2 linked regions of the Homo sapiens genome follow. The protein of the gene in region 2 interacts with the protein of the main gene of each other region in a biochemical or structural test. Each region holds a gene or a part of one and is shown on either strand. Other genes may lie near its edges.

Region 1 (3,816 bases), on a different chromosome or scaffold from region 2:
CCCATGTCAGCTGCTTTCGACCTTCATTTCTTTGCTTTCAGAGGAAAAAACACCCCGAAGACAGGTAACAAGTGTGACTTGACAGTACTGCGACAATACTCCTGTTTGTGAAACTCGGAACACAAGACTCTGGAGGCTGTGTCTCCAGCAAATGTCCAGAGCGTACTGTTTTATGTATTCAAAAAAACAAAACAGAGAAATAAGAAGAGGTCAATAAATGTCCCCAAAAACCCTGGAGAGATACTAACTTTCAATCTAAGAAAAAGAACAGCTTCCCAGGGCCCTGCCAGTGAGACACAAGGACACAGAATGTAACTTGCTGATGCCAGGTTAAAATGAAATTAACTACATCAGAAAAAACCTCCGCAGACCATCAAGAGATGTGTCTAACGTTCTCATCTACAAAACCAGGTTAAATATTTAGCCACACTCATCACGTCATCTGCTTGGGGGGTACCCAGCCCCCAAAGACTCAAGTGGCCTTCACAACAGGTGACACCCCTCAAGGGGCCTGAGACCTCCTGCCTGGAAGGACACCAGCCTTGCTTGGAGTCTCCGGCAAGCCCCGAGGAAGGTGAGCCTCCCCAAGGAAATCACGTACGTTTGACACACAGCAGCAGCAAATACTCACCGTGGAAAAAGAGCCTTCCCCAAGGATTTTCCCAAACTTGAAGTCCTCAGGCCGCTTCTTCCGAGGCTGCGGCGGAGGCTGGGCATGCTGCAGGGAGCCGGCGCCGGGCCGAGGCTCGGCTGCAGTGCCGTCCATGGCGGGGCCCTGCCTGCTGCCACCAGGAATGCCAGGGGGCGTGCTGGACTCAGTCTGGGTCCTCACCATTGATGGGGATGGGCAGGAACATAACACCACGCTGGACTGGATGGGCACGGCGTCATACTAGGCGACAAAGAGGAAAAGGAAGTAAGGCTCAAGGCAGCTGCCTTGCTCTCAATGCACGGACTAAGGTTTAAGGACCTCATTTCAACGCTCAAAAACAAACCCCAAGCACAGGGCAGGCCAGCTGAGCCCCGCGGTCTGCTGTGAGCTGCCGGCCTCCTCTCCTGAGTCCTGCCCGTGCCATGGCTCCCCGCTAATCCACCAGGCAGCGCCTCGCCCTCCTCCTGTCCCTCGCGCTGCCTGAGCCTCCAGCCAACTCATCCCAAGGCCAAGGTAACCTGAGCAGAGATAGCACGGCACATCTTTAATTGTGGGGGGGATGGAGAGATAAGAGTGATGATCGCATGTGTTTACAATACACAGAGACGCCCAGTGCTGGCAAGACTATAATAAAGCGAGCGCACTCACACCACTGCGGCTGGCACCAAAAACCGGGATTGCAGTGGAAATGTTTTTGGAAAGCAGTTTGGCAACTGTCAACAAAGCGACTACAGAACAGTTGTCAATGAGACACAGAAATACGAAGGAGAGGAGGGAGGGCAGAAACCCAGTTAACAATGTAAGCGGGCACGGAGGGAAGATCAGCGTGCAAAGCTAGGTCGGCAAGACGTGCAAGGTGCACCCACAGCCATAACAATCCCTCCCCAGACCCCAACGTGTCCTCACGGTGGTGGCAGTGGCCCCCCGCACTACAGAAGAACAATGCGAGGCGAGCTCAGGCGCGCTGATGGTGGTTTCCGATACAACTCCCCACTCAAAGAACCCCGGAGAGCTCTTGATTCCATCTCTCAGTAGGGTCCTGAAGTCCATGCTGTCTGAAGACACAGGGTCTCCCCCTGCGTCTGTGCCAGGACAGAGGGACTGCCACCAGCCAAGCTGCAATCCTTTTAAACGCTAAAAACGGCCGGGCTTGGTGGCTCATGCCTGTAGTCCCAGCAGTTTGGGTGGATGAGGCGGGTGGATCCCCTGCGGTCGGGAGTTCAAGATCAGCCTGACCAACACGAATAAACCCCTTCTCTACTAAAAATACAAAATTAGGCCGGGCACAGTGGCTCAGGCCTGTAATCCCAGCACTTTGGGAGGCAGAGGCGGGAGGATCACCTGAGGTCAGGAGTTCGAGACCAGCCTGACCACATGGAGAAATCCCGTCTCTACTAAAAATACAAAAAAACTAGCCGGGCTTGTTGGCGCATGCCTGTAATGCCAGCTACTTGGGAGGCTGAGGCAGGAGAATCGCTTCAACCTGCAAGGCAGAGGTTGCAGTGAGCTGATAGCATGCCATTGCACTCCAGCCTAGGCAACAAGAGTGAAATTTCGTCTCAAAAAAAAAAAAAAAAAAAAAAAATAGGCCGGGCGCAGAGGCCAAAGTGGGTGGATCACTTCAGCCCATGAGTTCAAGACCAGCCTGGGCAAACACAGCAAAACCTCACCTCTACTAAAAATATAAAAATTAACCAGGTACGGTGGCATGTGCCTGTCGTCGCAGTTAATTGGGAGGCTGAGGTAGGAGGATTACCTAAGCCCGGGGAGGTCGAGGCTGCAATGAGCCAAGATCACATCACTGCACTCCAGCCTGGACGACAGAGGGAGATCCTGCCTCAAAAATAAAAAATAATAAGTAAATAAATAAAAAGAATATATTCACTATTTTGCTTATCAAAGTCTCTTAAAGGAGGTGACTTACCTACGCTATGGACCCAATTACTCAGCCAATAAGAGGACACGGTCCCTGCCCATAGAAAGCTGATGTCCAGCCTGACCTCAATACAAAACCATCCAGTTAAAGTGGTGGGGGTGGCTATGCAGAGACGGGCGGGTGCCGGGAGAGTCAAGGGCAGCCCCTTGGCTGGCCAGGGGCTCAGACAGACCAGCTGGGGAGATGCATCACTCGCCCAGGAAAACTGATGACAGCTTAGATGGCACTGCAAGAGCAGGGAGGATCACACTCATGTCCAGAAAGTGAAACATAAAACAGCTAAACATGTACCACACAGCTTTCATACAAAAATTTTATATACACAAATTTTGAAAAAATAGAGATGGGGTTTTGCTTGTTGTCCCGGCTGGTTTCGAACTCCTGAACTCAAGTGATCTGCCTGCCTCAGCTTCCCAAAGTGATGCAATTACAGGCATGTGCCACCATGCCTGGTGACTTTTTTTCTGTTTTGAGACGGGGTCTCACTCTGTCTCCCAGGCTGGAGTTCAGTGGCATGATCATAGCTCACTGCAGTCTCGACCTCCTAGGCTCAAGTGATCCTCCCACCTCAGCCTCCTGAGTAGTGGGACCACAGGTGTGCACCACCGTGTCCAGCTAATTTTTGTAGAGATGGGGTCTCATCATGCTGCCCAGGCTGGTCTCAAACTCCAGGGCTCGAGTGATCCGCCATCCTTGGCCTCCCAAAGTGCTGGATTACAGACCTGAGCCACCACACCAGGCTGCCCCACACATTGTAAAGTTTCGCTTCCCTCTAATGTCAGATTCCAAAGACAGCAGCCTTCATGAGTCAGAAAGAAACATCGGTCATTTTGAAATCAACATCCAACTGAAGTGTAGAAAGGCCTCTGGATTTTTGAAACGGCAACAACAGATGATGTAATACAAAGACGCCCCCACCCCACTGCTTTCCCACTGCATGCTTTACATGACATGGCACAGCTTCCACGCCAGCAGCTTCAATCATGTAAAGCGAATGCAGTCCCATCAAGACCACAGCATTGGCTGAGCAGCTACTCCATGCTGGGCACCGTCCTGGGCACTGGAAGTACAGCAGAGAACGAAACCAAGACCACACCCTCCAGAAGCCTGCATTCCAGCAGGACAGACAGACTTCCATACACAGAGCAGGAAAATGCACAGCGTGTCAGATGATGATGATTACTATGAGAAAAATAAAGCAGGCAAAGAGAACAGGACTATTTGGATG
Region 2 (3,816 bases):
TGCCTGGCCAATTTTTTGTATTTTTGGTAGAGACGGGGTTTCACCATGTTGGCCAGGATGGTCTGGAACTCCTGACCTCGTGATCTGCCCGCCTTGGCCTCCCGAAGTGGTGGGATTACAGTCGTGAGCCACCGCGCCCGGCCAATTTTTTTTTGTATTTTTAGTAGAGACAGGGTTTCGCCATGTTGGCCAGGCTGGTCTTGAACTCCTGACCTCAAGTGATCCCCCCACCTCGGCCTCCCAAAGTGCTGGGATTATAGGCATGAGCCACCGCGCCCGGCAGGCTTCATTTTTCTCTTCCACCTCTCTTCCTGCCAGACTCCCGGGCTCCAATATCCCAAGAAAGAACAAATTAGGGCAAAATTAGGGCAGAAAAAGTAATAAACTACACCAGAAAAGGAGGAACCCTGAAAGTAGAAAGCAAAAGGGTATAAAAGAGGAAGCAGGGTCATGGGGATGGGTTTAAGTTTGTGAAGAAAAGATATGAGATCTAAAGGGTGAAGGTATTTCTTTGCCAACTACAAGGTAGGGGTGTGAGTTCCCTAGAGGAAGTACCATCAAGAGAAGTCAGGGGAATAGTTGCCAAGAGGATAAAGTGAAGAGACTGGGTGCGGTGGCTCACACCTGTAATCCCAGCACTTTGGGATGCCGAGGCAGGCAGATCACTAGGTCAGGAGTTCGAGACCAGCCTGGCCAGCATAGTGAAACCCCGTCTCTACCAAAAATACAAAAAAAATTAGCTGGGCATGGTGGCAGACCCCTGTAATCCCAGCTATTCAGGAGGCTAAGGCAAGGAGAATCGCTTGAACCTGGAAGGCAGAGATTGCAGTAAGCTGAGATCACACCACTGCACTCCAGCCTGGGTGACAGTGTGAGACTCCGCCTCAAAAAAAATAAAAATAAAAATAAAAAAGAGAATAAAGTGAAGAGAGAGCTCAACATCCCTCGTGGGCCCTGAAATAGGGTGGAATGTGTGAGAAACCAGATTCTGTGTGTGCTTGATAAGCTAATAGTAAGTTCATTTGGTTTGTAGATGATACTACCCCTTTCGTTTCAAGAAAGGAGAGGAGAATGGGGATCCTGGCCAGTATAACAAGGAGTATTAGATTCTAGAAATTCGGATTGAGTCATTTGCATGTTATTCTCACAGACTAGTAAATAAAATAAAGTCACTCCCAAAAAAGAACAGAAAGTAAAAGAAAGCACAAGACCACGATATCTTTGCCTTGAAGGACTACATTACTGGATAGAAGACGTAGCATTTTAGATACATTTTAGGGAGAGGAAAATTAAACTTGGCCCTCCTGTGCTAGGTGGGAGAACACAAAGTTTGGCTGTCTCGAGAACTCTGCAAGGTAGTTCCTCAGTGCCTTGCAAATATAGGTCAGTATTATACCAAGCCTCCATCAGGACAGAAGAAGTACAAGTGGTAAGGAATGGCATTAGGAGCTCAGGCTTCTAAATCCAGTAATCAGGAGAACTACCAGTAGGAATGGAGGACAAGACTGAATTGTACGAGCGTGCAATGCAATCATCTTCAACAAGACTGACAAACTTATCGAGGTTAGTTTCCAGTGCAATAGTGGGGCAAATGGGTAGGTGGGTAGGCAATAGCTAAATTGGGGTGAGTAAACCAAGAGGTTCAACTTTAGATACATAAAATGTGAGAAAATGGCAAGAAATGTGTGTGTTGTTGGTTGGTTGGTTGGTTTTTGAGACAGAATCTTGCCTTGTCACCCAGCAGAGAGTTCAGTGGCGCAATCTTGGCTCACTGCAACCTCTGCCTCCCAGGTTCAAGTGATCCTCCCACCTCAGCCTCCTGAGTAGCTGGGATTACAGGCACCTGCCACCATGCCCAGCTAACTTTTGTATTTTTATTAGAGACAGGGTTTTACCACGTTGGCCAGGCTGGTCTTGAACTCTTGACCTCAAGTGATCCGCCTGCCTCAGCCTCCCAAAGTGTGGGGATTACAGGCGTGAGCCGCTGCGCTCAGCCAAGAAATGTGTTTTAAGTGTCCTGTGAGTAAATGAAAATGTAGGACTAGATGGTCCCTAGTGAGAGGCTGGAGATGGTGTTAGAGAAATCAGCTTCAGAGGTGATGTGATACATTTATTCTGGTGGTGGCATTTTTAAAAATTGCACCTTAATGTGCACAAAGGTCAAGAAATGCTGATAAATATGTTCAAGTGATAGGCTGATTCACAGGAATGAGTAGTGTCAATTCATAGATGTTTGTGCACTTGCTCTGTAGGAAGTACCTTGTTGATAACTGTTTGGTTAGTATCATTACTATAATATACACAGAACCAGGATGTATCTATGTCTCCTTTATAGAACCAAGATGTAGCCAGATCTTTGATATGTCTCTGGTCTTCTAATGAATCTCCAGAAGTTGCAATAGTACCAGTCTGATTTCTAGTATAGTTTAAACTGTTAGCACCTAAACCTGGCCTTCAGAACTAGGTATCTTCTTTCTGTTAGGATTCAATGAATCCTTTATATTTAATAAATATATATATATATATATATATTTTTTTTTGACATGGGATCTCACTCTGTCATCCAGGCTAGAGTGCAGTGGCGCGATCTCGGCTCACTGCAACTTTGCCTGCAATCCCAGCTACTCGGGAGGCTGAGATAGGAGAGTCACTTGCGGTGAGCCAAGATCGCACCATTGCACTCTGGTCTGGGCAAAAAGAGCAAAACTCCATCTCAAAACAGACAAACAAACAAACAAACAAAAAACTGAAATTGTGGTAAGTGCTATGAAAAATAACAAATGGTGCTAATAAGAACTTACAATAGAAGATTTGATCTATTCAAAGAGGTCCAGAAAGCTTTCTCTGGCCAGGTGTGGTGGCTCATGGTTGTAATCTCAGCACTTTGGGAGGCTGAGGCTGGAGGATCACTTGAGTCCAGGAAGTCAAGTCTGCAGTGAGCTATGATCAAGCCACGGCACTCCAGCCTGGGTGACAGAGCAAGACCCTGTCTCCAGAAAAAAAAAAAAAGAAAGAAAAGAAGAAAAGAAAAGAAAGCTTTCTTTGAAGAATTGACCACCAAATTGAGATCTAAAGAATTATTAGTCGGGCATGGTGGCTCACACCTGTAATCTCAACACTTTGGGAGGCTGAGATGGGAACCCTAGAGGTTGAGGCTGCAGTAAGCCATGATCACACTACTGCACTCCAGCCTAGATGACCAAGTGAGGCCCTGTCTCAAAAAAAAAAAAAAAAAAAGGCCAGGCATGGTGGCTCACGCCTATAATCACTTTGGGAGGCCAAGGTGGGCAGATCACGAGGTCGGGAGATCGAGAGACCATCCTGGCTAACACAGTGAAACCTTGTCTCTACTAAAAACACAAAAAATTAGCCGGGCATGGTGACACACACCTGTAGTCCCAGCTATTCAGGAGGCTGAGGCAGGAGAATAACTTGAACCCAGGAGGCAGAGGTTGCAGTGAGCAGAGATCGTGCCACTGCACTCCAGCCTGGGTGACAGAGCGAGACTCCGTCTCAAAAAAAAAAAAAAAAAATTACCAAATGTTATCTAGGTAAAGAGGAGTGTGAGGAATGTTCAAGGCGGAGGTAACAACATGTGTGCAAGGCCCTATGGCAGAGGAAGCATGGCAAGGACAAGAAAATGAGCATGCTATAAGAAGCTGGAGAGACACCATGTAGGACATTGATAGCCATTTTAAAAGGTTCTTTGGGAGGTAAATGAAGTTCTATTTGTGAAGCACTTTTAGCACAGAGTCTGGAACACAGTTCTATGGATTAGCTGTTGTTACTGTGGAAAGTAGATGAACAGAAAACGTA

What was found.
Region 1: of the proteins of PTPN22 (region 2) and PDPK1, one has a biochemical effect on the other in vitro, tested with the Homo sapiens proteins (one large-scale study listed by IntAct).

The regions. Positions count from the first base shown.
Region 1 is NC_000016.10:2,554,779-2,558,594, reverse strand, and holds part of PDPK1 (3-phosphoinositide-dependent protein kinase 1), read right to left. Parts: intron 893-3,816; coding exon 632-892; intron 616-631; exon of another isoform or gene 1-615. UniProt on the Homo sapiens protein: Serine/threonine kinase which acts as a master kinase, phosphorylating and activating a subgroup of the AGC family of protein kinases.
Region 2 is NC_000001.11:113,861,397-113,865,212, forward strand, and holds part of PTPN22 (tyrosine-protein phosphatase non-receptor type 22), read right to left. Parts: intron 2,882-3,816; exon of another isoform or gene 2,802-2,881; intron 1-2,801. UniProt on the Homo sapiens protein: Acts as a negative regulator of T-cell receptor (TCR) signaling by direct dephosphorylation of the Src family kinases LCK and FYN, ITAMs of the TCRz/CD3 complex, as well as ZAP70, VAV, VCP and other key signaling molecules.